Homo sapiens: one gene and its partner. The protein of the gene in region 2 purifies or fractionates together with the protein of the main gene of each other region. This does not show direct contact. Each region holds a gene or a part of one and is shown on either strand. Other genes may lie near its edges. The genes, in order: KSR2 and UTS2.

Region 1 (3,816 bases), on a different chromosome or scaffold from region 2:
CTAGTACTCTCCCATTCTAGTGTCACTTGCTCACCTTAGGATGGTCTCTGTCTTTCAGAGTTTTTCCCCTCTCATCTATCCTACAGCCTAGGGATTAGCAAGCTACAGCCCATGGGCCCAATATGACCCATCGCCTGGGTTTTGTTTTGTTTTGTTTTTTGGGTTTTTTTTTTTTTGAGATGTAGTCTCCCTCTGTCACCCAGGCTGGAGTGCAATGGTGCCATCTTGGTTCACTGCAACCTCCACCTCCCAGGTTCAAGTGATTCTCCTGCCTTAGCCTCCCGAGTAGTTGGGATTACAGGTACCCGCTGCCATGCCCCACTAATTTTTGTATTTTTAGTAGAGACGGGGTTTCGCCATGTTGGCCAGGCTGGTCTCAAACTCCTGACCTCAAGTGATCCACTCACCTCAGCCTCCCAAAGTGCTGGGATTACAGGCGTGAGCCACTGTGCCTGGCCACCATCACCTGTTTTTGTAAGGCCCAGAAACTACAGTTTGTACAACTATAAACATCAAAAAAAAAATCAAAAGAAAAATATTCATGACATGCAAAAAGTATATCAATTTCAAGTTTCAGGGTCCACAAATAAAGTTTTATTAGAAAACTGCCCCACCAGGCCCGGCTTGATGGCTCACGCCTATAATCCCAGCACTTTGGGAGGCTGAGGTGGGCGGATCACTGGAGGTCGGGAGTTTGAGACCAGCCTGGCCAATAGGCTGGTCTGAAACCCTGTCTCTACTAAAAATACAAAAATTAGCCAGGCGTGATGGTGCAGGCTTGTAATCCCAGCTACTCAGGAGGCCGAGACAGGAGAATCACTTGAAACTGGGAAGCGGAGGTTGCAATGAGCCGAGATCACGCCACTGCACTCCAGCCTGAGCAACGGAGCGAGACCCTGTCTCAAAATAAAAAGAAAACTGCCCCACCCATTCATGTATGTACTGCCCATGGCTGCTACATGCTACAGCACAGAGTCGAGTAGCTTTGATAAAAATTGCAGGGTCCACAAAGCCTAAACTCTTTACTATCTGTCCCTTTCCAGAAAAAGTTTGCCAGCCCCTGCCGTAGGCTGCCATCCAAGGCAGGCGAATCACTTGAGCCCAGGAGTTCAAGATCAGCTGGAGCAACATAGCAATACCTTGTCTCTATTTAAAAAATACAAAAAATTAGCCAAGCGTGGTGGTGCATACCTGTAGTCCCAGCTACTCAAGAGGCTGAGGCAGGAGGATCTCTTGAGCCCTGGAGGTCAAGGCTGCAGTAAGCCATGATCGTGCCACTGCACTCCAGCCTGAGTTACAGAGTGAGACCCTGCCTCAAAAAAAACAAAACAAAAAAGCTTATACTTTTCTATTGTATGCATTCCAAAACCTTTGAAGACTTCTATCTCCTTCCACAAAGGGATGAAACGTTGTTGGTCTGACTCTCTAATCTTTAGTTGGATCCCAGAAGTTAGTGGCCTAAATTCATTTCCTATGACAGGCTACCAGGTACCCTCCATTCTGGGCAAAATGGTCTCTAGGCTGCCCCATGAAGGCATTCAAATACCTTCATCTGGTTTGTTGTTCTTGTCCAGCATGCTCTCCCCTTTTGCTGCAATCTAAACCCTCCTCATCCTTCACTCCAAATCCCCATCTCCCCAACCAAGAAGGTTTCCCTGCTTTGCCAAATGTTTTCCCAGGTGTATCCTATGGAACAAAAATCCCAGGAGAAATCCTTGGGCCGGGTGCAGTGGCTCACGCCTGCACTTTGGGAGGCCGAGGCGGGCAGATCATCTGAGGTCAGGAGTTCAAGACCAGACTGGCCATCATGGCAAAAGCTCGTCTCTACTAAAAACACAAAAATTACCAGGGCATGGTGGCGGGCATCTGTAATCCCAGCTATTTGGGAGGCTGAGGCAAGAGAATCACTGGAACCCAGGAGGCAGAGTGAGCTGAGATTGCGCCACTGCACTCCAGCCTGGGTGACAAGAGCGAGACTCCGTTCTATCCTCTCTTGGAGGCCTAATACACATAGGTAGCATATTAAAGGCTCTGAGAAAAGTCCTGCAGTAAAGATGCCTGTTTCCCTTTGCTTAACTCAACCCTTCCCAAACTTATTAACCACAGAATTTGTTTTGTCCACAGAACACTTATTGACTACCAGCATTAAGTACAGTGCCTGGATGTCAGCATTTGTTGAAAGAATTAAAAACGCTAACATCCCACAGATTTAGGGTTCTACAGAACATACTTTGGAAATGCTACTCAAGCTCCTCCTTCTCTCTGTCCAATCTGAACTGCTCCCTTCCATGCCATCTAGTCAACACCATGTAATGCCAATCATTATCATCATCACAGCTGTCATTCATTTAGCACCTGCAGCCACTCTGTTCCAGATAGTGCTAGACCCTTGAAAACGTTATCTCTTTCAATCCTTATAACCATCCTCTGAAGTAGGGAATATTATTTAATTATTGCTGTTTTGCCAAAAACTTAAAACTATAAATCAGAAAACTTAAATCACTAGCCCAAGATAAAGTAAAAAGACAAGCTAGAATTTACAACTATATCAGTCTGACTCAACGTTCATGAACTTTCTTTTCCACCAAAATATCTTCTGACTATGTGCCATGGCTGCCATCGCTGGCTGTCCACTTACTTAATATCTACCTATGCCTCCTTCCACACTAGCAGAGCCCTGATTTTGCATGGAGTGGCAACATGTCATTTCAGGCAATGGATCATGATCCATCTAAGCCGATCCTGGTGGTGGTCCCACTTCCCCACTTCCCGGGCTCCCTTGCAGCTAGGACTCAGTTCTGGCCAAGAAGATATAATCAAATCATCTGCAAGGTGAGGAGGAAGAGATGTCCTGGGGAACCCTTTATTCCTTCACACTCACCAGGTCCTCCTCTTTCCTACCTTGAACTCAGATGTAATCGCTGAAGCTGCAGGAACCATCTTGCAACCATAAGAGAAAAGCCATGAGAATTCCCAAAGACATCAGCCCTGGTATTACTAACCTACTGAGCCAACTGAAGCAGCTATATGTCTCCAGAATTCTTGTTACATGAAGAGAAACCATTATTTGCCTTACTGCTAGGATTGGGTTTTCCATTTCATGCAGCTGAACACATGCCTAATGGGCTCACACATTGTCCCCCATATTATTTACCACTTAGACTTTATCATTATTTCACATACACATTATTATATCATGAAGTATGCTTCCTGAAGGCCAAGTCCACCTTGCATATTTTTGTTTCTACAGAAGTGTATACATGCTATTAAGTGCTGTTCATTATCACAGCACTGTTCAGGGATCATCTATTCAATTTATTACTTGCATTAGTGTTAGCAAGCAGTGAGTTTTCACCATTAAAGAGCTGAAATATCACATCTTTCTCCTAATGGTTTAGCATCTCAAAGTGTCCATTTGAAAACATGTATCAGAAATACCTGGACTGTTTATTAAACGCAGATTCCTTGACCCTCTTGCTAATCCCAGCTAAACTAGAATCTCTAGGGTTAGAGGCTAAGAATCTGCATTTTAACAAGCACCCTCATATGGTTTTGATATACAAAATTAGAAAATTCCGTGGACCCAAATGTTAGCGTTGGCTGGACTTGGCTGGACCCTAAGTTACCAGCCCCTCTGCAGGGGCCCTCCCTAACCCTGCAAATCTGGGAAATACAAATTGGAATAATTGCTCAAGAGCATTCCCTGGGCAAGATGGATGAAAGTGGTTGCATGCTCTGTAGCATACTGGGACAAGGGAACTGAAAACAGATGCATTTCCTACAACTGCAACTCCCCCATAGCCATCCTACCAGTGC
Region 2 (4,574 bases):
CACCATGTTGGCCAGGCTGGTCCTAAACTCCTGACTTCAAGTGATCCGCCCACCTCAGCCTCCCAAAGTGCTGGGATTACAGGTGTGAGCCACCGCACCCAGCAAAAGGCTCAATTTTGTTTCCAGAACTTCCTGAGCATATGTGTCAATGCTTGGGGGAATGTGGCCACGGGGGAATAAGCTGACATTTTATTAATGACTTTCTGTGTGACTCGAGCATTTTACTTGCCTTGACTCATTGACTCTTCACAAGTTACCTTCTGAGGTGGAAACTTAATCATTCCTGATTACAGATTAAGAAACTGGAGTACAGAAAGATTACTTTAAGTTTTCAGTAAACGGGAAACTAGGATTTTAAATTGCACTCACTGGAAACTGGAATAATTACCACCAAGCTCTACCCCGCAAAAATAAAAGTCCACACAGAAAGACAAAATGCTGAGGTACCAAAGAGCACAGTGCGAGCAAGGAGCTGCTGGGGAAAAGAAGGTTGCACAGGCCGGGAGGGGAGAGTGTTGGTAATTACTTATTTTATATAGCTCATCTTTATATTCCAAAATAGAGCTTTACCTCTTCTAGATGAGGACAGACGGTAAGTTCAGTAGCAATTAAATCAGACACGCTATAAACATGAGAAGCATTTTACCTGCTTTCCTGAGAATATCCCCTCTTTCTGCACCCAGCATCTCTGGCAGTATCTGTAGAAGGGAAGCTCTTTCTAGCTCCTCCGGAGTTAAGCGCGCGTCTTCATGAGGTGCTACAGAGTAAAAACAGATACTTAGAATTGGGTTCATCCTTCAGTTAGTTATTTCTGTTCCTTGTGTCTTTGGCGAGCACCAGAGATAGGGAGATGAACACTAGAAAAACTTCCAACGCTGAGTTCATGACGTGTCATCAGTGGTATTCTAGAAGAGGTGGAAATGCTACCAGCCCGTGTGCCAGCCAGCAGAATGGGAAGCCGGGAGACGTGGATCTGACACCCGCGTGATGAGCCAAGCCCCTCGGCTGCCTCGAACAAGAGCTGAGGGATAAGCCACAGCCTTTCTCAAAACCATTTTGGTTCAAAAAGTCTGACTCTCCCTCATTTCTGCTTATCTACTGCTGCCTACTGCCTTTTTGCTTTTAGATATTTGGGTGGTGACATTGGAGAGGAAAAAGAAAGATCGTTTACAATCTTCCTATAAAGCCAGTAGGATGGTATCACCTCTTCTTTTACTGAACTTCAAGATTTCAATACAATTATTATACTTAGAATTGGCTTCAAAATCATCTGTAAGGAACTTGATTGTGGCATTTCCTATGTGAAATGTGGTCGACCAGATGGCATATAGAATGCATGGTAAGTGCGCTTAAGGTGTGTGGAAAGGGCACACCGGAGTGTGAGGCGTGGTAAGTGCAGACCTGCTGCTGTGTTGCGATTCGAGGCTGTGGGAGTCAGGGTGGGAGGCCATGTGTGGGACCAGCGTGCCACAGGCTTACAAATAGCTGCAACCTTGATTGGAGGACAGTGAGCAGATCATCATAAAGGCATCAGAGCACATTCACAGCACTTCTAAAGACTGTTAATGAAAATCTATAAAATTTCATCATCTGTAAATGCTGATAGGAAAGCACATTTCTGGAGAAATAAATGAGAACAAATTCTGCGATAAGCTGCCACTTGTTTCGAATTTGTGTGAGATGCTACACTCATTTCATCTATGTTTCTTAAATTACTTGTAAAATTTTTTAAGATGACAGTAGTAGCTGAGTATTTTCACTTATTTCATCTTGAGATGTGTGCTGTTTCTTTGTAAATAGCAGAGATTCAGTAAAGTTAATGCCAGTGTTTAACTATTAGTAGGACAGCCAATGATCATCTCGGTGACTCGGGAAGTTGGTTGGCAGTGCCTGATGACAGTGCTTGACGATCATCAGAAAGCTGCTTGGGATGAACTTTTAGAGACGAGAAACTATAAAATCCTTGGCTTAAAAGAGGGTTTGTTTGTTTTTTTTCTTTATTTAAAAAAAGCCTATTTAAAAAGTACTCAAGATTAAAGATAAGATTAAATCTAGTTAAGTTTTTGATGGAACCTAATCCCCAAGCATTAGCTTTCTCATTTCTCTAACTAAATGGAAAGATAATGGCAAAATGAGAAACTACTTGACTGATGTGTATTTCTTTAACTCAACTTAGACTTAAACTGAATTAACATAAATCAAAAGGAAACGATCAATATACTTGGAAGTCTATGAACTCCCTAGTTCCCTAGTTTGTCATTTACTAAAAAATTTTTAGTAAACATTTTTGTTTCGTAGAACACATATCAGATGATTTTTTTAAACAAAAGGTGAAACAAATAAATCCATTAATAATCTATAATTAGAACAACCAGTGCTACATTCAACCAGTTCATTTAAAGTAAAAACTAAAAGTAATGATGTTTTAAATTTCATGCAATTTTTAAAATTGGAAAAATGTATATATTACCCAAAACAAGAGTACAGAGGTAACATGAAACAAGCAATTATCCTCTTCTCCTTTTACATTGTAGAGACAGAAAAAAAACTGTATCCATTACTACATCTAAAATGTGCAGTAAGGATCCTTTAATATTCTTTTCAAAGCTGGGACTATTGAGAGAACAAGACTCCAGACTCCTTCGAGCAGGAATCCCATTCTTATCTCTAACATTGAATTTAAGACTAGTAAAGGCTCTTTCAAGACTAACATAAGGGGAAAAAAAAAATCTTACCTGAGAGTTGAAAGGATATTTCCCTGGAGTCAAGGAGAGGAAGAGATAAGAGAGGATTTAAGAATCCTATGAAAAGCAAACAGCAGGAGGCCAGCTTATACATGATCGCCACAAGATAGACGGCTTCCTTCTTGGCTTCTGTTGTAGAGAACTTTCAACTGTCTCCTCATTCTGCCTGCTCACTGATTATATATATCATCCTATGACCTGACATCATCCTCTCCAAAAAAAAAAAAAAAATGAATTTATTGGCTATGGAGGCTAAAAGGCAATCACTTTGCATTGATGTAATTTTTCAAGGTAACAAGTCATAGACAATAAATTAACTGTCTTGTTGCCTAGTGTACAAAGTAGGTATTATATAAAGAACAGTGAGTTTATAAATCTGGCAAAAGAGGCAACTTACAGCAATAAATCATGAATTAAAGGAAGGCTTGGATATGAGTTGAAGTGGCCAAAGCAAAGAGACGTGGATTTATGAGTCCGAGCAGAAGTGACGCAGAGCATAAGATGAAATACGTTGGTTTCCATTTTTTAATCTTTCATGAGTGAGTAGATGAGTTGCCATGCTGTGTTTAGGGCTGCCATCCCTGAAGAATGACAATCTGTGGATTAAAACGTAAAACCAGCTATTTCCTTTAAAACAGTGAAAAGTTAAAATACATAGCAAACATTGCTCCAGGCTCAAGACAATTCTGTACATACACGTGGCCTCATGTGAAGCCGCAAGCACTTCAATCTTCAGAGAAAGGAAATAACTTCATAAAGTTGATTATTATTCAGCAAGGAGGGAGGAAGGACTTAACACCAGAAAACTCGCTGATAAACATTTCCAGAATGTGGCCTCTACTCCCAACTGTACTCTGCCCAAGCTGGTCCAAGCCCGGATGGGTGGAAAGGTCCCCGACAGGCGTCCTGAAGTCTGCCTTCGGGCCTGCCACAGGCTCAGCACAGCAGAGTGATGCCAGAAGCATCTGCATAAGTCAGATCATGGTAGTTCTTTGCTCAAAACTTTCTGTGGACCTAAACACAAAAGTTACAAAGATAGGCCAGGCACGGTGGCTCATGCCTGTAATTTCAGCACTTTGAGAGGCCGAGGCAGGAGGATCACTTGAGTTTAGGATTTCAAGACCAGCCTGGGCAACATAGAGAAACACTGTCTCGGCCGGGTGCAGTGGCTCACGCCTGTAATCCCAGCACTTTGGGAGGCTGAGGCGGATGGATCACGAGGTCAGGAGTTTGAGACCAGCCTGACCAACATGGTGAAACCCCGTCTCTACTAAAAATACAAAAATTAGCCAGGCATGGTGGCACGTGCCTGTAATCCCAGCTACTCAGGAGGCTGAGGCAGGAGAATTGCTTGAATCCAGGAGGCGGAGGGTGCAGTGAGCCAAGATTGCGCCACAGCAGTCCAGCCTGGGTGACAGAGCGAGACTCTGTCTAAAAAAAAAAAAAAAGAGAAGGAGAAACACTGTCTCTACCAAAAATACAACAATTAACCAGGTGTGGTGGTGCATGCCTGTATCACTTGAGCCTGGGAAGTTGAGGCTGCAGTGAGCCAAGATCGTCCCACTGCACTCCAGCCTGGGTGACAGAGCGAGACCATGTCTCAAAAAAAAAAAAAAAAAGAAGAAAGAAAAGTGGTTACAACGTAATGATAGAACTACTAGGGGAAAAAACATGAACACCTTCACAACCTCAGGTTAGGCAAATATTTCTTAGACAAGACACAAATCACACAGGAAAAAAATTGAGACAGGAGGAATAAGTTCAAGAGATCTATGTACCTCAGGGTGACTCTGATTAATAACAATGTATAGTTGAAGATTTCTAAAAATC

The links.
Region 1: the proteins of UTS2 (region 2) and KSR2 purify together in Homo sapiens (co-immunoprecipitation; one large-scale study listed by IntAct). This does not show direct contact.

What each region holds. Positions count from the first base shown.
Region 1 is NC_000012.12:117,962,287-117,966,102, forward strand, and holds part of KSR2 (kinase suppressor of Ras 2), read right to left. Parts: intron 1-3,816. UniProt on the Homo sapiens protein: Location-regulated scaffold connecting MEK to RAF. Has very low protein kinase activity and can phosphorylate MAP2K1 at several Ser and Thr residues with very low efficiency (in vitro).
Region 2 is NC_000001.11:7,850,166-7,854,739, forward strand, and holds the start of UTS2 (urotensin-2 isoform b preproprotein), read right to left. Parts: upstream 2,901-4,574; 5' UTR 2,839-2,900; coding exon 2,736-2,838; intron 758-2,735; coding exon 647-757; intron 1-646. UniProt on the Homo sapiens protein: Highly potent vasoconstrictor.